Linked DNA regions of Homo sapiens. The protein of the gene in region 2 purifies or fractionates together with the protein of the main gene of each other region. This does not show direct contact. Each region holds a gene or a part of one and is shown on either strand. Other genes may lie near its edges. The genes, in order: LRIG3, GAL3ST1, PSG3, PIGU, LRIG1 and PSG4.

The links.
Region 1: the proteins of GAL3ST1 (region 2) and LRIG3 purify together in Homo sapiens (affinity purification with mass spectrometry; 3 studies listed by BioGRID and IntAct, with this or other methods). This does not show direct contact.
Region 3: the proteins of GAL3ST1 (region 2) and PSG3 purify together in Homo sapiens (affinity purification with mass spectrometry; one large-scale study listed by BioGRID and IntAct). This does not show direct contact.
Region 4: the proteins of GAL3ST1 (region 2) and PIGU purify together in Homo sapiens (affinity purification with mass spectrometry, with the first as the bait; one large-scale study listed by BioGRID). This does not show direct contact.
Region 5: the proteins of GAL3ST1 (region 2) and LRIG1 purify together in Homo sapiens (affinity purification with mass spectrometry; 3 studies listed by BioGRID and IntAct, with this or other methods). This does not show direct contact.
Region 6: the proteins of GAL3ST1 (region 2) and PSG4 purify together in Homo sapiens (affinity purification with mass spectrometry; 2 studies listed by BioGRID and IntAct, with this or other methods). This does not show direct contact.

What each region holds. Positions count from the first base shown.
Region 1 is NC_000012.12:58,875,505-58,879,004, forward strand, and holds part of LRIG3 (leucine-rich repeats and immunoglobulin-like domains protein 3 isoform 2 precursor), read right to left. Parts: coding exon 3,320-3,500; intron 2,349-3,319; coding exon 1,896-2,348; intron 1,100-1,895; coding exon 941-1,099; intron 1-940. UniProt on the Homo sapiens protein: May play a role in craniofacial and inner ear morphogenesis during embryonic development. May act within the otic vesicle epithelium to control formation of the lateral semicircular canal in the inner ear, possibly by restricting the expression of NTN1.
Region 2 is NC_000022.11:30,571,866-30,575,837, forward strand, and holds the start of GAL3ST1 (galactosylceramide sulfotransferase), read right to left. Parts: upstream 2,801-3,972; 5' UTR 2,601-2,800; intron 1,005-2,600; exon of another isoform or gene 1,004-1,004; coding exon of another isoform or gene 938-1,003; exon of another isoform or gene 822-937; intron 1-821. UniProt on the Homo sapiens protein: Catalyzes the transfer of a sulfate group to position 3 of non-reducing beta-galactosyl residues in glycerolipids and sphingolipids, therefore participates in the biosynthesis of sulfoglycolipids.
Region 3 is NC_000019.10:42,733,982-42,737,481, reverse strand, and holds part of PSG3 (pregnancy-specific beta-1-glycoprotein 3 precursor), read left to right. Parts: intron 1-3,500.
Region 4 is NC_000020.11:34,667,093-34,670,592, reverse strand, and holds part of PIGU (GPI-anchor transamidase component PIGU), read left to right. Parts: intron 1-3,500. UniProt on the Homo sapiens protein: Component of the glycosylphosphatidylinositol-anchor (GPI-anchor) transamidase (GPI-T) complex that catalyzes the formation of the linkage between a proprotein and a GPI-anchor and participates in GPI anchored protein biosynthesis.
Region 5 is NC_000003.12:66,491,023-66,494,522, forward strand, and holds part of LRIG1 (leucine-rich repeats and immunoglobulin-like domains protein 1 isoform 1 precursor), read right to left. Parts: intron 1-3,500. UniProt on the Homo sapiens protein: Acts as a feedback negative regulator of signaling by receptor tyrosine kinases, through a mechanism that involves enhancement of receptor ubiquitination and accelerated intracellular degradation.
Region 6 is NC_000019.10:43,202,839-43,206,898, forward strand, and holds the start of PSG4 (pregnancy-specific beta-1-glycoprotein 4 isoform 1 precursor), read right to left. Parts: upstream 2,801-4,060; 5' UTR 2,699-2,800; coding exon 2,635-2,698; intron 2,110-2,634; exon of another isoform or gene 2,037-2,109; coding exon of another isoform or gene 1,925-2,036; intron 1,414-1,924; coding exon 1,048-1,413; intron 1-1,047.

The DNA.
Region 1 (3,500 bases), on a different chromosome or scaffold from region 2:
GTCATATATTTTAGAATAACATCGATGGCTTCCACTTGCTGAGCCCTTAATATGTGCCTAGCGCCATGTAGTTTTCCATCTTCATTTCATTTGCACAAGTACCTCACCAGAAAGTATTGTATGTGCCCCACAGTACATGCAGTAAGTAGTAGGTCTTGTACCAAACCTGTGCTCTTGTATTATGCTGTCTCCATTATTATTCTCAAAACTATGCAGCATTGAAAGCAAGGGTCAGAATTAGACTTCTCAAAGAGGCTGGGTGCGGTGGCTCACGCCTGTAATCCCAGCACTTTGGGAGGCTGAGGCAGGCAGATCACCTGAGGTCAGGAGTTCAAGACAAGCCTGGCCAACATGGCAAAACCCCATCTCTACTAAAAATACAAAAACAAAAGAAAGCATTAGCCAGGCGTGGTGGCATGTGGCTGTAGTCCCAGTTACTTGGGAGGCTGAGGCAGGAGAATCGTTTGAACCCAGCAGGTGGAGGCTGCAGTGAGCTGAGACCACGCCACTGCACTCCAGCCTGGGTGACAGAGCGAGACTTCGTCTCAAATAAATAAAAATAAATAAATAAAAAATAGACTTCTTAAAGAAAATAATGTAAACCATTAGACTTTTAAGCCCATTCATGTAACCAGTTAATATCATTTAAGGGCCAAAGAACATTTATAATGTAAAGGATACACAAATATCCTTTACACATGGAATAATTACATTTTTCTAAACCTACTAGTCTTTTTTTATTGTTAGAAACAAAGATTTATTTCTTTCCTAGTATTTAAGAGAACGGTATAGAACTATACAATTTCAACCTTGCTAGTGATCTTGGGCCAGGTCCTAAATGTCAGTGTTATCAATGTCTTGTGAAAATGAATATCATATCTGAGCCTTCCACCATATGACTTCAAAACAATTACAGCCCACATTCATTTTAAACACTTACCACTACTGTCATGTTGTGGTAAGAAAAATCCAGCACCTGAAGATGTGACAAACTGGTGGTGGCTTCCACTTTCTGAAGACACGTACCCATCCTGCCTGTCAGCTAACGTTCCCTGAGATGACAAATAACTAGGAATATCTGCTGGCAAGTTGGTCTCATCTGTAATAAAACAGCAGCATTTTATTAACCAAGGATGATCGTTAATTGTCCCACAGGCATCCCGGGTGAATGGCATAGACTATTTTGGCTTCTGTATACATCAAATTAGGGGAGATCTACTCTGGCAAAACCATCTCGATTGTACAGTATTCTGGAACGGCAAATTAGGGCTTTGCTGCTCTGGGACGTATAAGCTGACTTTCTGTTTTATCACCCATTGGATGCACCTCCCAAATTTCAAAACAACAAATGTTTAAACAGATTTTTTAAAAGGCTGAAGGCCTAAGAATTTTCATGGGACAGTATCTAAGCTTTCGAATTATGCTTGATTATTGCCATATTCCCTTCTTAATATTACTAATCAATATCTGACTTTGCACATACTAATCAAGTCACAGCTCCTCTTCCACTAATAAAATCCAACCTAAGTACATGCACATACGCACAGACAACAAGACATACAACTACTGCAGAGAGTAAACCTTATCATTAAAGGGCTGTTCCTGGTTCTCCATCACTATCTTATGAAGGAGTTAGAAATATTTTAGTCAGTGACTTGGATTTTATCTCACAGCCACAGGATACCCTGATGTCATTTTAACAAAAAGTATTAATCTTTAAACATCAGCTTTATTTGGGGCTGGAGTTTTTTAGCGAATCATATTTCTGCAGCTTGAAACAAATGAGTCACCCTTCTGAGATGAACTCAGACTGCAAGACACACGTTCTAGAAGTATTTGCAGAACCACAAATACACATGACTCCGGTGACCTGTGCCAAGCTTCTGTTTACACACCTGTGTTGGTAATGCTGCAATCTTCATTCCTCCGCCTTGTGTGGTATATGATGACCACCCACACGAGTGACGTGCCCACCACACAGCAAACCACGGCTATGATCACGACACCCACAGTGGCCCATCCGTCATCGTCTAACGATGGGGCTGTCATCTGAGGGGAGTCGCAGGTTGGAGTGGGGATCACACTGAGGCGCACGTTTCCTCTCTCAGTGCCAAGGGTGTTAGACATCTCACATGTGTATTTCCCAGCATCACTGACATCTGAGTCCACAATAATCAGAAGCTGATTGCCTGCTGCAAAAAAGTGCCTCTCGGTTACCACCAATGGGCTATCATCTTTGGTCCAGTTCAGTTTAGGGGGAGGGCTTCCTCCAGCAATGCACTGTAGGACGGCTGTTTCTCCCTTGGTTACAGTTCGGTCCAACAGTGGCCGCAAAAATGATGGTGTTTCTGAAATAACAAGTTATGCTTTTAATTTCCCAAATAAAATTTAGTTTCCATATCATAAAATGTAGCATTTAAACTTATTCAAATTGTAACCTAAAATTTTATTCTCCCACAACTTACTGGACACACTTTTCTAAGAGCCTAAACATATACAACATTCAGTATTTCACTATTCTGCTGTCATTTACTCATAACACCAGTTAAGGATAATATCTACTATTTTTAAAATCTCAGCTTCCCTCACTTTTGCAAAAGTCGGGAAGCTGGTAGTAGGGGGGGAGAGTGGGAAACAAAAGCTTTTTAAAAATAGAAAGTACAAAAATAATTTCAAGCACAAGGGTATGTTGATAAATAAAAAAAATCAGAATGCTTAAGTTTTTTAAGTGAAACTTTTTAGGGCCGGATGCCTGGGCCTATATTAAAACTCTGACAATAATTTACTTTTATTATTTAGTATCTTAATAGGTTACGTTAATTAGCTCTTTCAAAGATACGTGAATAATAATTGTGTTTACATTTTTAAAAAGCATTTGTTTAGGTAAAAGATGAAAAAAAAACTCTGACTTCCGGAGAGGTATGGTAGGCTGAGAAAAGAGAGTAAGGCCTTCCCAATTTGTTCCCACATTTTTTTTTAATGTTCTTTATGGTGTTAAGACTACTGATATAGACAGCACAGTGGGGAAATTAGAGGAGGGTGATCCCCCATAAAAGGGAAAGCATCCCAACTTTTCCTCGGCCCCTCTCTTCAGGATGGAGGGGGCAGGGATTCACCTCAGTGGCCAGACTTGAGGATGTCATGCAATCCCTGACTTCAAAGTGTTCAAGAGGCCATTTGCATTAATACTTTCTAGGAAAAGGCAATGCCCCATACATCTTCATCTCTTACTCTCACAACTTCTGATACTTAGGGACCTTGGATGAGCTAGTATCTTCAAGACTGATTTATACTACAGAATCTTAACAAATTCACCCACCTAGGACAGTCAGAGTTGCATTTGCTGAAATACTTCCTGCACTGTTCTGAGCTGTGCAGCTGTATACCCCAATGTCCTCTATCTTCACATCCACGATAAAGAACACGTCATCCTCGGGCATCACATGCATGCGTCTCTCCCGTGCAGCTGGGAAGTCTGTGCCCCCATCCTTCTGCCAGGC
Region 2 (3,972 bases):
AAACAAAAACAAAAACAAAGGGCATCCATGCCTGTGACCTTGACAGACACTCCCAGTCTCCTCTGCTAGCCCCATGTGATGTGTGGGGAAACTGAGGCTCAGTTTTTTTGCCTACACGGCAAAGCCAAAATGAGGAGCAAGGCCACAGCTCTTCCTGCTACACTGCCTTGTCTGGGTAAATCACCCCGCTTCCTGAGGGGGGGATTTGAGTAGCCTTAGAGAAGCGCTAACTGGGGCGTTGCAAGTCACAGCTTCACCAAGAAGTCAGTCACTTTGTCATTAGCTCCAAAAATGCTGAGAACCCCAGAGCTGAGTATGTAGGAGTTGATAATATCAGTCTCTGTACCTTACAACATGCCTGAAATATTTTTTAAGGATTCTTATGCGCTTATTTGCCTAAAACTATGTAACAATATAAAGGTTTGTGAAAAGGTATTGACACTTGCAATGCACAATGCCGGAGATACATACACCCACCTCTCCATTCCTGGAAACTCGCCTGGTAACAAATGCTGGCTCCACCACCCCCCAAGCTGGGTGACCTTGGGCAAGTGACTTCCCCTCTCTGAGCCTTGGTTTCCTAAAAAATGGCAGGTACTATGATGCTTTCACAGGCCTGCTGTGAGGCACGCAGAGCCCTTCACACACTCAGCGTTAGCTCCTCTGATTGTATTGTGATCCTCCTAGATCCCACCTGGTAGGGGAAGCGGGCTCTGTCCAGACTTCTAGAAGGATACCATCCCCATCCAAGGAGCCAGAACTAGCAGGAGGGAAGGCAGGCATCTTCTGGGCCCCCACTTCCTCCCACCATCACCCCTCACCTGGAGATTCCAGCAGTCCCCAGCCTGATGACCCCCATGGGCACCTGTGTTCCATCCTGCTCTGCCCTGTTTGGAGTCGTGTGGAGCCCCTAAAAGGGCTCATCCATATTCCTCACCCAGTCAAAGTGAAGCAAGGAGCCCTTCAGGAGCCTGCAGCCGGGCCCAGAATTCCATTTGTGCATCATTCTCTCAGGTTAATCATTGCCTCTTTCACTGGATGGCACACCCAGTCCCTCAGAACACAGTGGGAGGGGCTGTGGGGGACACACTCCTCCCTTGCTGGGCGACAAGAGGGCATCGGACCCATTAAGGGAAGGGGATGCATGGGGACCAGGCATTCTCTGTCCGCAAGGAGCTTCCTCCAGGAAGGGCTCTGCCTGAGCAAGCAGGGAATAAAGCAGGCTGAGGTGGCAGCTGGGAACAGGGCTTCGTTGTCTCGGCTCCCGGGGTAGCAGCCTGCTCACCCGCTGAAGTGTCAGGCGGAGCTGGGAGCCAGGGAGGCGAGGGGGGGTGTCCAGAGCTGAGGGTTTGGGGCAGCCCAGGCAGATCCAAGAAGGCAGGACCCCAAAGGAGCAGAGAGAGGTCATGGGTTGGGCTGGGGTCCTGAAATGGGGGCCAGGGCAAGACTCCTATGATTTGGAGTCAGCTCAGCTACCTCTGAGCCATGTGACCTTGGACAAGTCATTGAATTTCCCTGAGCCTCAGTATCCCCCTCTGGATAATGGGGATAGGTAGCAATGCCTCCTTCACAGGACAAGGAACAGTGCGTACACAGTGACTGCTCTGGTCCAGGACTGCCCTCCTGTGCCCCCTGTGTGGGCCTGGATGAGCCTCACCCTCTCTGGGCCTCAGGTCACCCCGTCAGTAAAGGAAGAGATTGGGTTTTCCCAACTGGAATGGACAGTCCTCTACACCTCTCTCCCCTCTGGAGGATTCTCATGCACCTGTCACCGCGGCAGCCCGGGGATCAGGTGTCAGGCATGCTGCCTTCTCTCCCTTTCCTTCCCCCTGGTGTGGGTTACAGCAGCCAGACATGCCCATCACCTCTCTGGCTCTGGGCAGCTGGGCGGGGCAGTTCCCACTGGGCAGGGCTCGGTCTGTAGTGTGCTCTGTGCTGGTACCAAAATGCTGGCCTGGCACCGAAGGGGCAGATCAAGCTGGACCCCCTTCCTGGGCACTGGGCTAGGAAACAGGAACTGTAGGATTTCCTATAGGACCCCTCCTGGATGCCAGGGTTTGTCCCACTCTCCCAAACCTCTCCTTGGTGGCTTTGCTTCCTCTGGGGTACAGGCCAGGGCCTTCCCCCAGCAGAGGGGATCCATCCCTTACTATGGTCTCCGGTTCCTGCTCTGATCCCCTTTCTAGGAAGGGCTGATGGAGACAGGGGAGATCTCTGCCCCTCCTCCCCTAGGGCTCTGGCCACTGTGTCCAAGATTAATCATTAACGCACTCCCAGCTCCAGCTCAGCCCCAGCAGCCTGCCTTCTGCCCCACCCATCCCACCTTCAGGGACTGGGAAGCCCTGGAAGGGGGGTTGGGGGACAGGGGAAAAAACCAAGGGCATGGGGGGCACCAACCTGTGCCCTCCCTGGCCCCTACCAGGCCACCCTCTGGCAGTGGGCAGGGGTACCCAGCGCTTAGAACAGCGGTACTGCACTCCTACTCCCCTCCTCCGGCGCGTGGTCCCAGTTTGGGGGTTAGCGTAATGTGGGCGGTATCCCCAGGGAGTAGACTGAGGCAGGGCTCAAGCTGGCAGTGGGTGCTGGAGCCCGGGACGTACCTTGTCCCCGTCCTCCTCCGCCTCAGCGTGGCTGGCTCGGCCCGGGCCGCGCCGCCCGGGCGCTCACTGGGCGGCGGGGCGCACCCGGCCGGGCCCCCCGCTCCACCAGGCCTGGTCCATGCCCCCGCCCCCGCCGCCGCTGCCGCGCCGCGCCCGCTCCCGCGCCGCGCCCGCTCCCGGCCAGGTGCCGCCGCCAGCCTGGCCCAGCCTCCGGCGCCGGGGCCAATGGACGCCCCGGACCCCAGACCCCTCCCCGCCCCGGGCCGGCCCCCTCCCCGCCCCATCCCGGCCCCTCTGCGCCCGCCCGAGACGCACAGAAGCCGCATTCAGCGCGCTGGGGCGCAACGCTGCGCCCCCGCCGCCGGCCCAACAAGGCCCGTTTGTCTCGGACGCGCCAACGGGGCCATTGTCCCGCCCCGGTCCTCTGGCTCAACGGAGCCCCCAGCCCAGAAGACTTGAGGATGCCCAGGCTTGGTGGTGGTGGGGAGGGGAGCCAGGGCTCTGGGAAAAAGGCGGCGGACGGACTATTGCTTAACTTTGGTTGGGGGGTCCTGGGGCCCTTAGGATCCAATGGATCATACGGCTTCTTGCTCTAGTCAGTGCCAACTGGGGACGACACATTTTTGGCACTCATGGGAGTGGAGGGAGCTCAAGCAAGAGACTGAGCTCCAACTGGTCCTGTCACCTGGAGGTCTCAGCTGTCACTCTCTAGGGTGCCAATGAGGGCTGAGCAAGGCCACCAGGAGGCAGGTGTCCCATCCAGGCCCTGTCTCATTTTCCAGGCCTGGCCTTTCCTTCTTCACCCCAGAGGAGCAAGACCATGGATGAGGACCAATGCCTGCCAGGGGCCAGGAATCCTCAGCGCCAGCTGTGGGCAGTAAGGAACCAGCTGGCCACCCAGTGGGGCCTGGGATGCGTCAGAGCCCCACTGCCCCCGCCATTACTGGGCGATTCTGGAATGGGGAAAATTCCACATCAGCATGGCTGCCAGGAATTTTTCCGTATCTGATGGGCCTGCGCTCTAGCCGTGTGGCCCTGGATGCACAGTTCCCCAGACAGGCCTGAGTTGTCTCCCGGGGCTGCAGGCTCTGGCTCCAGAGGTCCTGACCCTCTGTCCCAGCCTCTGGAGGCAACCTCACTCCCTCCCATCGCCGTGTGCATGACAGAGTGGGAATGGCACACAGCCCTCTCCTTCCACCCACAGCCAGTCCCAGCTGAGAGGGGGAGCCCTAGGTTTTCTGCTCCCCAGGCCAGAGCCTGCCCAAGCTCTTGCCTTCCCCCTGCACAGGTTGGACCTACATCCACTGCCACAAAAACATTCTCTGCCCACACAGCCAGCAAACAGTGAGAGGCAGAGGGCAAGGCCCTCAGG
Region 3 (3,500 bases), on a different chromosome or scaffold from region 2:
GTTTCCCAAAGTGTCCATGTCACTGTCACAAGAGGATCAAGGAGAGGACCTTGTTTTCTTTCCCCACTCACACCCTACACCACCATAGGCCCAGCGAGACAGACACACTCAGGAGCTCTTACATAACAAATGAAGAAATGGAATGAAGAAATGAATGATCCAAAACCTCTTTAGAGACTGAATTTGCATGCAGAATCCTAGGAGGTTCTAGCCACACCTGTCCCTTGTCCTTCAGAGGCTGACACCCACGTTTCATCCCCCCACTACCTCTTGACCCTAAAGCAACCCCACCTCATGTAACTCTGAAGCTCTTTGGCCACCGGAGGGTTCTCAGGGCTCCTTGGTCCTGGACTGTGGAACTGGGGGCACCTGGTCCCTGGGGTCTCTGAAGTCAGTGTAGCCCTCACTGCTCACTGCCATGGTGTCTCTGCCTCTCTCTGCTTCTCTGTGTCCCTCATCTTCCTCCCACTTCATTCTGACTGGCAAGCCCTGTCCTGCACAGCTTCTTCCCCCACCCCTAGGTCTTCCCCAGACACTCCCTCTAACTAGGCTGACTGTTCAGTTCCCTTCCCGCTAACACTGTGGCCTGGCCCACCTCCCAGGAAATAGGAAAGGTGCAGAAATCACCTGGAGTTGCCACTCCTGCCAGGCTTCCTCTAGAGCCAATGTCCCCAGGTCACTAAGAGAATGAGTTTCCACTGTATTCCCATCCAGGGCTCTTTCCCTTTGTGAGGCTGACCTGTGGACAAGACCATGGGACAGGGATAGGCAGTTTCTCCATCCACTCTTATAATTGCCAGACAAGTTCTTCTGGCCTCCTGCACACACACACACACACACACACACACACACACACACACACACACACAAATGTATTGAAATGGTGGTTTGTAGTAAAGAAAGATTTTAATGACTCCAAGTCTGCCAAACAGGAGGATGGAGGTTTATTATTACTCAAATCAGCCTCCCCAGTGGATCAGGGCTTAGAGATTTTCAAGGATAGTTTCAGGGGCACAGGACTAAAAAATGAGTACTGCTGATTGGTGATGGAATCATGCGGGCGGAGGGAAATGATCTGTTTGTGCTTGAATCCACCTCTAGGTAGGGACCACATGACGGGCTGAGCCATTAGTCATAGGTATGGATGAGGTCAGCCGGTTGCCAGAATGCAAAAGAATGAGAAACATCTCAAAAGACCAATCTCACGTTCTACAATAGTGATGTTATCTATAGGAGCAATTAGTTACAAATTTTGTAAACTCTGGCCCAACGACATTTGAGCAGTCAAGGATTATAAAAACTCTGCCAACATTTTAGCAGAATTCAGTTCCCTCCTATAATCTTAATCTCATGGTCTTTCACTAGTTTTACAAAGGCAGTCCCTGGGCAAAGTAAGGGTGTTACTTTTACAGAGGAACAATTATCATTCTTGCTTCAAAGTTAAACAATAAACTAAATTCCTCCCAAGGTTAGCCTGGCCTATGCCCAGGAATGAGTGAGGACAGCCAGCCTGAGACTAGATACCAGATGGACTCAGCCATGCTAGTTTGCTGTCACTGTTGTAATCTTAGCACTGACTCACCAGAGTGTCAGAGGCTGGACAGGCCTGCAGTCCCCAAACCCCATGGGCTCATTTCACCCATTTCACTTGTGACTCCATCCTCAACCTGCTATAAAGCTCACATTCTCCGGTCACTTCCTAGAGACTTCTGGCTTCCTGTCAGGCATATAACAAGCTTGAAATTTGTTCCTCGGTTCTAACACTAAGTAAAAAGCTGAACAAACTCAAAAGTCAACAACTCATTAAAATCCCTCAGAGATGGCTGGGCACAGTGGCTCATGCCTATAATCCCAGGACTTTGGGAGGCCGAGGCAGGCACAAGGTCAGGAGATGGAGACCATCCTGGCTAACATGGTGAAACCCCGTCTCTACTAAAAATACAAAAAATTAGCTGGACGTGGTGGCAGGCGCTTGTAGTCCCAGCTATTTGGGAGGCCAAGCCAGGAGAATGGCATGAACCCAGGAGGTGGAGCTTGCAGTGAGATGAGATCATGCCACTGCACTCCAGCCTAGGTGACAGAGCGAGACTCTGTCTCAGAAAAAAAAAAATGTTTTTAGAGACATGAAGAATGCTTTTGATACTTACTGGTAGACTGAACATAGCTGAGGAAAGAATCCCTAGCTTGAGGATATGTCAATAGAAACTTCCAAAACTGAAACAGGAAAGTTCAACAAGAGTGGGGAAAAAAAGTGGAACAACATTTCAACTTCATATTTAATATTTTGATTTGACAATAGCAATTTTTAAATTTTGTAGCTGTGGGACAACTACAAAGGCTATAAGATACACGTAATGGGAATACTGGTGGTTTTGGGGACCAGGTGGAGGTGGCCAGGTGGGTGCTATCTGATGGCTTTACTGCCTGTGCCACATACAACTGTTTCCTCATGATGATGCCGTTTTCATAAGTTGGAGTTCTGCGTGTGGGGAGACACACAAACCATTGGCATCTCACTTAGACTCTTTCTAATTCACACAAACTTAAACACTAGTGGTGTTTCCTGAGCTTAAGAGAAAATGAAGAAAGCATTTCACATACCTGTTTTGGGGTCCTCCCCATTTTTCCTAACTCTGCACAGAAATTAGAAGCAGGTTCTTTCTATATTTACTAACATAACACACATCACTTCTTTTAGTTTGGCATCCTTCCTCCCTTTATGCAATTGACACACTAACCAGTTCTGTCCTTTTAACGGGACTCTCTCTACTTAAGGAGTTGCTAATTTCAAATCACCTTTGGCATCTTTCTTTGAGCATAATGTGATCCTGCTGGAATTCACGGCACACCTAAACCTTATTTTGGTCTCAAGAGAAATACTACTACCAGCAATTGATCTTAGATGTTTGGATCATCAGTAAAAATTTCCACTTATGAAAACATTTCAATGTTTCCTCCAAATTTTTTGCTGTTGTTGTTACTAGAGTCAGAACATAAGGTCTAAACTCCTGACAAATTTTTATGGGAAAATTACAGTATTACAAATTGAGCATCGGAAATCCAGAAATCCACAATCTGAAATGCTCCAAAACTCAACCCTTCTGACCACTGATGTGATGCTAAAAAGAAGTGCTCACTGGCGCATTGTGGATTTTAAATTTTTCAGATTTGGGATGCTAAACCAGTACATGTACTGTAAATATTCCAAAATAAAAAAAATTAGAAATCCAAAACACTTGGTTTTAAGCTTTCTGAATAAGGAGCACTTTATCTGTATGAACTATAGGCATGAAGCTGTACAGGAGATCTCTAGAACCTCCTCATCCTGCATAACTGAAACCGCACACCCACAGAACAACGCCCTATTCCCCTGATCCCAGCTCCTGGAAACTACTATTCTACACTCTGATTCACTCTGGAATCCACTGATATCAGGTACATAGAGTAGTCAAATTCAGAATCAGAGAGTAGAATGTCTAATGAGAGAAAGTATCTGCAAG
Region 4 (3,500 bases), on a different chromosome or scaffold from region 2:
ACTCCAGCCTGGGCGACAGAACAAGACCTTGTCTCAAAAATAAAAGAATCAGGGTCAGGAAGAGCACTTCTGATACCACTACTTAAAAAAGCCTTTATGGCCAGGCGAGGTGGCTCACACCTGTAATCCCAGCACTTTGGGAGGCTAAGGTGGGAGGTGGGTAGATTGCTTGAGCTTGAGTTCGAGACCGGCCTAGGCAACATGGTGAAACCTTGTCTCTACTAAAAATACAAAAATTAGCTGGGTGTGGTGGCAGGAGCCTGTAGTCCCAGCTACTCAGGAGGCTGAGGCAGGAGAATCACTTGAACTCAGGAGGTGGAGGTTGCAGTGAGCTGAGATCATGCCACTGCACTCCAGCCTGGGCAATAGAGCAAGACTTTGTCTCAAAAAAAAAAAAAAAGCCGTTATTACAAAATTAAACAGAATTTGTAAGACACACATAACAATGTATTCTATGGTGAATTATTGTAAGGTGAACATTTTTGTAACTGTCATCCAAGTCAAGAATCAGAACTTTGCCACTCACTTCAGAAGCCCCCCTTCGTCACAATCCCCTCACTCTTTTCATAAGTAACTATTATCCTGACTTTTATATGTAATGACATCTTTGTATTTTTAAAAGTTTTATTACTCAAATGAACATCCCTAGTTCATTTGCCGTTAGGCTTAGTCTTGCCCCTAAGAAAAAAGTTTTTGTTTGTGTTTTCAATCTCTCTTAATTTTTAGGGTCCCAGGTTCCCTTTCTCTTCCATAGTGTTTATCTATTGAAGAATCCAGACAGATCTCCCATAGTTTGAATTTTCCTGATTATATATCATGATACAATTTAACATGTTCCTCTATCATCTCTATTTCCTGCAAATAGGCAGCTGGATCCAGAGACTAGATACCACTGTTTTTTGTTTTTTACTTTTTTTTTTTTTTTTCAGCCAGAGTCTCACTCTGTTGCCCAGGCTGGAGTGCAGTGGTGTGATCTTGGCCTACTGCAACCTCCACCTCCTGGGTTCAAGCAATTCTCTTGCCTCAGCCTCCTGAGTAGCTGGGATTACAGGTGTGTGCCACCACACCCAGCTAATTTTTGTATTTTTGGTAGAGATAGGGTTTCACCATGTTGGTCAGGCTGGTCTTGAATTCCTGACCTCAAGTGATCTACCTGCCTCTGCCTCCCAAAGTGCTGGGATTACAGGCATGAGTCACTGCACCAGCCTGTTTTTTAGCTTTTTACTTGAAATCATTTTAAACTTACAGAATACTTGCAAAAATATTGCAGAGAGATCTGTATACCCTTCACCCAGCTTCCCCCAATGTTAATATCCTACATAGTCATAGTACAGTGATCAAAACTAAGATGATAGCATTGGTACAATACTATTAACTAAACCATAGTTGTTAAGATTTTACCATTTTTGCTGGGCACAGTGGCTATGCCTATAATCTCAGCACTTTGGGAGGCTGAGGCGAGGGGATGCCTTGAGCTCTGGAATTTATGACCAGTCTGGGCAACATAGGGAGACTCCCTCTCTACATAAAATTAAAAAAGAGTTAGCTGGTTTGGTGGCGCACACCTGTGGTCCCAGCTACTTGGGAAGCTGAAGTGGGAGGATTGCTTGAGCCTGGGATGAGGAAGCTGCATTGAGCTATGATCATGCCACTGCACTGTATGTAGCCTGGCACCAGAGCAAGACCCTGTGTAAAAAAAAAAAAAAAAAAAAAAAAAAAAAAAAAGTTTTACCATTTTTTCACTAATTTTTTTTCTGTTCTATGATCTAATATTCCATATTGCATTTTTATTTTTATTTTATTTATTTATTTATTTATTTTTTTGAGTCAGAGTCTCGCTCTGTCACCCAGGCTGGAGTGCAGTGACACGATCTTGGTTCACTGCAAGCTCCGCCTTCCGGTTTCATGCCATTCTCCTGCCTCAGCCTCCCGAGTAGCTGGGACTACAGGTGCCCGCCACCTCGCCTGGCTAATTTCTTATATTTTTAGTAGAGATGGGATTTCACCATGTTAGCCAGGATGGTTTCGATCTCCTGACCTCATGATTTGCCCACTTCAGCCTCCAAAGTGCTGGGATTACGGGTGTGAGCCAGCACGCCCGCCCCCCCCTTTTTTTTTTTTTTTTTTTTTTGAGACGGAGTCTCGCTCTGTCACCCAGGCTGGAGTGCAGTGGCGAGATCTCGGCTCACTGCAACCTCCACCTCCCAGATTCAGGAGATTCTCCTGCCTTAGCCTCCCGAGTAGCTGGGATTATAGGTCCCTGCCACCATGCCAGCTAATCTTTGTATTTTTAGTGGATACGGGGTTTCACCATGCTGGCCAGGCTGGTATCGAATTCCTGACCTCAGGTGATCCACCTGCCTCGACCTCCCAAAATGCTGTGATTACAGGCATGAGCCACCGCGCCTGGCCACATATTGCGTTTAGTTGTTATATCTCCTTAGTCGTTTATCTGTGATAGTTCCTTAGCATTTCCTCATCTTTTATGACCTTGACACTTTGAAGAGCTCTGGTCAGGTATTTTGTAGAATGTCCCTCAATTTGGTTTTGTCTAATGTTTTCTTGTGGTTTGACGGAGGTAATGGATTTTGGGGAAGAATACCCCTGAGATGATATGGTCCTCTCAGTGCATTGGATCAGGGGTGCATATTGAAATGCCCTAATACTGGTGATGTCAGCCATAATCCCTTGGTTAATGTAGTGTCTGCCAGATTTCTCCACCATAAAGTGACTGTTTCCCTTTGTAATTAATCAGCATTTTAGGGGCTATTCTTTGGAGCTCTGCAAATATCCTGTTTTTAAATTTTTGCCTACTAATTTTTGCATTCATAGGTTAATCTTGCCTGTAACAGTCATTACTCAGGTGTTTCAATGGTGACTTTTCTGTTTCTCTCATTCATTTTTATTTAATAATTAAAATTCTTCTGTAAGGAAGAGTTGTCATTTCTTTGCATTTATTTAACTATTTATGTCAGTATAGATTTGGATATTTTATACTCTGGACTCTGTATACTATATTCATTCTGTTGTTTGGATTATTCTAGTTTTGGCCATTGGGACCGCTTTCATCTTGACCCCTTTGTCCTTTTGCCATACCTCTATCTCACTTTTTTTTTTTAAAAGCACTTTATTACATTCTAGAACTATAAGATGATCCAGGTTTATCTTGCTTAGTTCAGCCCTGGAATTGACCACTTCTTCAAGGGCCCTGGCTCCTTTTATTAGAGAATGTTATTTAGAAACAAAGTTCTGAATGCTAGGTGTGTTCATTGCAGCTGGAGTGATGCTGCTTCTTAGGCCCTCAGCTAGAAGTATAGGGACACTACTGCTTTTGAACAAGCTTTTGTCCTTATTGATACGGGAAACTGAAAAATAATATTTGTCTTATACAGGATGATATGCTTTTATTATCACCCATAGGAAAAGTATACCAAGGTAACTAAGAATTATTGGCCAGGCATAGTGGCTCATGCCTGTAATCTTAGCACTTTGGGAGGCCA
Region 5 (3,500 bases), on a different chromosome or scaffold from region 2:
TGCAGCAGCTACTTGGAGAACACATTTTCAAATCTGTGTGAAGTTTAAATCAAGCACAGAGGGTTCCAGGAACCTAGTTCTTTGCTTTTTGAAGATTTTTCTTACAGGCTGCCTCTAACTCTATTTAAAGCAGCCTCAAGTAGCCACAGCTGGAGGGTCAGGCCTTACAAAGTAAACAATAGTTAACTCAATTCAGACTCATGACTTAACTACAACCAACGGCTAATTATCCCTCTACTAAACAACAGTATCTGAGACATCACTTTTTAAATGATCTATTCCATTTCTAATTATGTTTGTTCACTAATGGATTTTAATCAACAATTAATAGCTTGGTAGAAACCTCCCAAGTAAGAGCTATGTGGAGAAAGTGGAAGGTTAATCAGAATTGCACATTCTGGCAGAGGACTAGCACAAAAGAGCTTGCTAAACACCTCCTACAAAAGAAAAAAAATCTGTATTTTGAGAACATATAAACTAGGGTGCACACAGAATGTGCCCAATAAACATTCTGTAAATATATAGCTTACCAAAACGCCCTTTGGAAAAACACAGTTAAAATGAATGTCAATTTTTTCAAAACTTCCAATTTCTTAAAACCACCCTACAGTAAATAGTATGGTATATAAATTATATCTCAATAAAGCTGTTAACTTAAAAAAAACCTATACATTTGCAGATAAAATGATATGCCTTTGATTTATTTCCAAAGAAAAAATAAATAAATAACATGGAAGGGCAGCAGCATATTGGGAAATAGATCAAATAAGACAGCTGATGATTGTTGAAGATGGGTGACAGATACCTAGAGTTCATTACATTATTCTGTCCACTTGTGTAGATATTTACCTTTCTCCATATTCAAAAGGTAAGAAAAAACACTCCAGAGCAACAGAAGTGAGTTAGTTTATTTAAACTACCTGCCTGCATATCAACTGTTCCCTTAATTCAAAATTTTTTCTAAAAGCTATGTATTTCAGATCATCTCTCAAGAAAAAGAAGCTGTACCTGCAACAGCTTACTTTCTAATCAGTTGTAAGTTTTCTCTAAGCAGAGCCCAGCTTGTTAATTTCTTGTTATCCAGCCCAAAGTGCTAATGCTTGAGAGACAAATGCTTTCAAACAAAAGAGCACTGGAACTACAAGATTTGAAACAACAGCAAGATTATCTATCCTCCAGTTCAGAAGTGTTCAATCCTTCTCATTGCATTTAACAGGCTATCATCAAGTAGGTAATCCGGAAGAAAAGAAGTTCAGTGCAATGTATGCTTTGACCAAGATAAGCAGTAAAATATTTCAATGGCAAATTATAAATTGGTGGAAGGAGCAAAACAGGGAGGGGGAAGCTGTTAAATGCTGCATAAAGGAGTCTTAGAAAATAAAGTTGTGAGTTGTTTTTTTTCTAATCAGCTAAAAAAAAGAAGAAAAACCCTGCATTACGTTCATCGTGTTTCTCAAAGTCCAGCTAATTCTGCTTGTAAGAGAGACCTTCACTCATTTCCTTCATTTTCTTCCCAATAATGTGAGATCTTGAGAATGCAGATCATAAAAGATAAGAGATTAGAACTTTTGACCACAAAAGTTCAAAAACTAATCAACGCAAAACACTTAAAAAGAGGCCATGCTTTCTTTAAACCCTCTAAATGTCACCTTTTGCCAAAACAAACTGAACAAGCAGTAATTAGAACCTGCATCCTGGTTCATAAGGAAACCAAAATGTATTAGGACTTGCAGAAATGAACAGATTGGTTGTTCGCACAATGGGCCTTACCGGTTATGCTAGATTAAATAGTAATAAAGACGAAAACAATCGTGGCCGTTCACGTGGGCAAGGCTGTGAATCATGGCCATTCACTGGGGAAGGAACTCAGGTACAGGTGCACAAGGAGTGATAGCAAACAGTAAACAGCTTTTCAGGTGGCATCCTTGCCAGATTCCTCAAATGACCCTGTGTTCCCCGCCTGTGTCCCCTACAAAGTTACTATGCAATTCCAAACAGACCAAAACAAATGAAAAATGTTCTTTGCATACAACTCCACAATTGTCTCCTGTCCTCCCTCCTCCCTCCTCCCTCAAGGTTTTCCAAAGAGAAGCGGGTACAGTGAGGATTCAGTTAGCCCTAAAGTCTGTAACTTAACCCTGTTTGGAAGAGCACACCTGCATTTTTCCAAGCTATTGACTGAGAGGTGCTACTTGCACCTTGGTAGGGCTCAGTTTCAATGAAACCCTGGGAAATAATAGGATAAAATGATTAGTTTAAGGGCCTCTCACTTCCCTGCCACCTTCCCATACCTGCCTCCCTTCCAAAAGGATAGTGGTAAACAGACATAACTATTTGTACAACTGGAATAGATTTATAAAATACCTCAATAATTTTTGCTAATTATATAATCTGTTGCAACTGTTCATAGCTTCCTGCCTGTTTGGCTAAGATTTCCAAGGGTACATGAGGTTCACTTGTGGCACTTCATACATATCACCAAAAATCCATGGGAGAAGGCCGCTTCATACATATCACCAAAACTCACAGGAGAAGGCTGCCATCTTCCCATTCCAAAAGACTCCTTCACAGCAGAAAGGTAAACATTTCCCAGGAAAGCCTCTGTCACCAGCAATCTGGCTTGGAAGCTGGGTGTGGTAGCATGAGCCTTCTAGTCTCAGCTACTCAGGCAACTGAGATGGGAGGACTGCTTGAGCCCACGAGGCTGAGGCTGCAGTGAGTCTTGATTGCACCACTGCACTCCAGCGTGGGCAACAGAGTGAAACCCTGTCGAAAGAAAGAAAAGAAAGAAAGAAAGGAAAGAAAGAAAAAAAAGAGAGAGAGAGAGAAAGAGAAAGAAAGGAAGAAAGACGAAGGGAGGGAGGGAGGGAAAGAAGGAAAAAAAGAAAGAAGGGAGGAGAGAAAGAAAAAAGAAAAAGAAAACAGAGAAAGAAAGAAAGAAAAAGAAAAGAAAGAGAAAAAGAGAAAGAGGGAAGGGAAGGGAGTGGGGGAGGGAAGGGGAAGGGAAGAAGGAAGGAATCTGGCTTGGAGAGACTGGCTGTGAGACAGGATAATAAATTGGAGCTACTGAGGCCTTTAACCTTCAAATTGTGCTCCAGAATCATCATAAAGTAGATGGACCCAAGTTGAGGAACCTAGCTAAATATAGGCATCATCTAACTTTGTCCTCACAGCTTCTATAAGATAGAGCATTTTTCTGTCTTTTTAGACATGAAGAGGTTTGCCCAAAATCACACATGTAGCTGTAGACTGGAGGTGCCAGGGATGGACCACAGAATTAACTTTCAACCCCTTCACCGCCACTCCTTAATGACGAGTGTGAGTTGGGTGTGACCACCAGCGGCAAGAGCCCCTGCATATTTAACACAGTAAAGGTGAGGAAAGCTTTGTCCCTAGCCCATTCTCTCCCCCAGTCAATAACCCAAATGGAGACCAGGAGACAGCTGGGTAGCAAATGCCCATTTAGAAGATATAAAGAACTAAAGGCAGGAAATGAAAAG
Region 6 (4,060 bases), on a different chromosome or scaffold from region 2:
ATAAATGACTATGGGGTGCTTGGAACCCAGTAAGCCCTCACTTCTGGTGGAGGAGAGGAAGGGCCTGTGGCTGCAGACAGACCTCATGTGACCCCGATCTCCCCTTTGTGTTGGTGTGACTCTGGTTCAGTGACTGTGCCTTCCTGTGCCTCAGTTTTCTCTCAATCAAATAAGCTAAATGGCAAATGGACTGTGGCTTTTCATGCTATCTGTGAATAAATGTTAAATGATTCACAGTCACCTGACCTAATGCTTGGCACAGTGGAGGTTTCACACAAACAGCATTTATTATTAATTTGCTTCCATGAGAAAACACCTTTACATCAGATCCCTGTGGACAATCTGCTACCAGGTACATCTTCTCCTTCTGTTTCTGCTTCTGGGGACATTAGACTTTCTATGGACTCTCCTAAGCCGATGTCCTACAAAGCTTGTCTTTCTATCCTCTCCACTCTGAGTGTCAGGTGAAGAAAGCTCTGTCCTTGCCCAGATGAGGCTCTGAGGGCTGAGCCCTGGCTGGTGAACAGCTCCAGGAGACACAGTCCTCTGACAGCTGGTAAATTCTTGGTCCCAGTAAGGCCTGCCCAAGAAGGAACAACCCAGCACTGGCACAGGCTCCTCAGCTTTATCTGGAGCAAGGATTTAGGGACAGAGGTCTGGGGTTGAGGCTTCTAGGGCTGAGCTGCTCTGAGAGTATCTCAGGGGGCCCCTCAGGCCAGCCCTACTCAGTTCTCCAGGGTCTTTGTCAGCGTCAAATTTATGAAGAGGGCATGAGGTGCTTGTCTGAGACTGATCTCCTCCTGCTGAGTCCCCCCATCAGACTGTCCTTCCTCTGCAGCGAGTGTCTGCAGGGTCTGAATGCGGGAAAGGAATTCTGATCTGTTGAAATTTGTCTCCTCTGTGTGTCCTGCACTAAATGCCCAAACCCCAGCATGGGACTTAATGCAGAGAGGGACACAGGCAGAGTCCAGGCCTGAGAATCCTGTGTGTGTGAAGTAGAAGTGACCCCTGTCCCCCAACACCCAGGGATCATGTGGAATCACTCACGGTGTAAGGTGAAGGTGAAATGTCCAGTTACTCCTCCAGTCCCATCGCGTCGCTTTATGATGTGTAAGGTGTAGGATCCTGCATCCTCCTGCGTGACATTCTGGATCAGCAGGGATGCATTGGAATATACTCTTTCTCTTCCACTGTATGCAGGCCCATATATAATTCTTTGACCGTCTACTACATATGATGTAATGTAATGGTAGAGGTATGTCATTTGCCCTTTGTACCAAATGTAGCCAGCAAGATTCTGGGGCAAATTGTGGACAAGTAGAAGAACATCCTTCCCCTCAGAAACTTTGGGTGGCTGGGCTTCAATCGTGACTTGGGCAGTTGTGGGCGGATTCCAGAAGTTTAAAAGTGATGCTAGGAGGTACAGAGAGCATCAGTTAATATTGAGACCTATGTATTGGGGTGAAAAGATGGGTCCTGAGAAGGTCTCTTCAATCCTCAGCCTTGAAGACACACAAACACACACATACAAACACATACACACACTAAAGGGGCGTGAGTGTATGTGTGTGTGTCCTACTGTCCCACTAGGTCAAGATCAGCAGCATGACCCCCATTCCTTCAACACTTCTGACCTTGGCATTTTTCTTTTTGGATTCCTCTTCCCCAGGGGTCCGCACGGCCCCCTCCACACTGCCCTCAGGTCCTGCTCACATCAGGGCATCCTTAGACTTCTTTCCTGATACCTCCTTCAGAGACCCTGGGTCTTCCCTTTCTGACCTTTCCCTGCTCTCCTCCCTCCAGGGTTCTTGTCAACACCTGATCTCACATTCTAGATCACTTAGCATGTCTGTCTTCCCCCCACGATGACTGTGTGAGCTCCGTGAGGACAGGGACTTTTGTGATCTTGGTTGCACCCCAGTACCTGGAACAGGCGGCAGACTCCTGTAGATGTGAGAGTTCTCAGGGTCTCCACCCTCTGGATGTTTCTTTTTCCCCCCAATTGTTGAGGTTTCTTGCTGAGGACAGTGTTTCATGTCCTGCTTATATTTTCATTTGAAGTGTCATCTGATATAGTTATTGTTATCATTTTTCAAAATATGGTGGCCCCTGATGATTAATCAGGAAAACAGAACACTTAAGATTTTCCTACCACTTACCAATTCCGCTTCAATGTGACTTTCCTATTTTGACCCTCTGGTGTATTTTCCCCTATCCAGGCTCCAACAGAGCCTTCTTTCCCTTTTCTTCTTTTTTCTTTTTTTCCTTTTTTCTTTTTTTTTTTTTTGAGACGGAGTCTCGTCCTGTCACCCAGGCTGGTGTGCAGTAGTGCTATCTTGGCTAGCTGCAACTTCTGCCTCGTGGGTGCACGTGATTCTCCTGCCACAGCCTCCTGAGTAGCTATGATTACAGGAGCACACCACTATACCTGGTTAATTTTTTGTGTTTTTAGTAGAGACAGGGCTTCACAGTGTTGGCCAGACTGATCTTGAACTCCTGATCTCCTGATCCACCCAACTCAGCCTCCCAAAGTGCTGGCTTCTTTCATTTTTCAGAACCCCATCCTCTCCAGGAGACCCCATCCAGTCACTCTGCTTCCTCCTCCTGTCCTCTCCCAGGAAGTTCTCTCCTCACCTGTGAGCAGGACCCCCTTCCAGGTGATGCGCTGTGTGCAGGGAGGGGCTGAGAGGGGCCCCATGGTCTCTGCTGCTTGTGTGTTCTCCTCTGTGGAGATAAGCCTAGGATCCAGAAGCTTCCTGAGTACGGCTGTCAGCTGTGCTGTCCTTCCTCCTTCTGTGCTGAGCCTCCTCCCGGGGCAGGAGCATTTCTCAAGCTCGTGGGCGGGGTCAGGCCCAGGACACCTCTCTGTCCCCTCCTCTCTCAGTTCTGCCTCCTTGTCCCTCCTGTTTTTCCTTTTGTCTGTGTTTCAGGTCCCTGGGAATTGTGGAGGCCTCTGCATTTTTCAGCAGTGATTCTTTCACCAAACCTCAACACACACTTTGTGCAGATGCACACACACACACACACACACAGAAGAGACACACACGACCCACATGGTCACACACATACCCTGCAGGTTAGGCAAGCAGAGTCCTGGGCCTCAGCCTCCTGCTGTCCCCATGGCTCTGGGGTAGGGTGCACATTCACGCCCTTTACCCTCTTCCTTCCTCATCTGGCTCTCCCCTTCAGTGCAGGAGCTGCACAAGGTTCCCGTCACAGTGACGTCCCATTGTGCTGTGGGTGAGCTCTGTGTTGTCTGGTAAGAGGGACCCTTCCTTTCTCTAATCGTGTCTAGCTTGGCTGCAGCTTCCAAGGATGAACATTCAGTACCTGGGTTTCCCAGAGGAAACTATCCATCCTGGAGGTGTGCAGGGTGAATCTCTCAGGCCTCTTGGGAGGAGAGGCCTGTGCTGATTGCTCAGTGGGGGCTGTGAATCCCAGAGTCAAAGGGACAGTTCTCGGTCACTCTGTGTCTCCCTGGGGTCTGGCGGCTGAGCTGGAGCTCAGGGTTTCTCATGTTCTCCCTGACCACCTTTGATGTCCTCTCTTCTCTGCCCAGCTGATTGTCCTGTGGTCACCACACCTTCCCCGTGGTGGTGCAGGAGGAAGTGGGGAGTTACCCAGGAACCCCGCGGGACATGGCTTGTTGAGACGCAGGAGGGGGAGCCTGGGACAGAGCAGGGGTTCAGAGCTGGAGAGATTCATCCCGACTTACTCCGTGGCCATGATGGGCTCAGCCCTCCCTGTGCTGACATACCCAGGGGTCTGTCCTGAGGGTTTTGACCTGGCCAAGCTGCTCTCTGTAGAGGAGGAACAGGCAGTGGCCAGAGAGCCTGTCTGGAGGGACCTTGCTCACACCTGAGAGGGCGGGTGGGGGTGAGTTGTGTTCTGGGAGCAAAGAAAAATAACACCCCCCTTCTCCCCACAAGCACACAGGAGAGGTCTGTCTTCCCAAGGGACAGCTGGTGGCAGGTGGCCACATCCCGGATGGTGCCTGTGTGTGACCATCACACGCTCTCTGCGCCCCCTGGGCTGCAGTGGGCAGGCAGGACACAGGGTG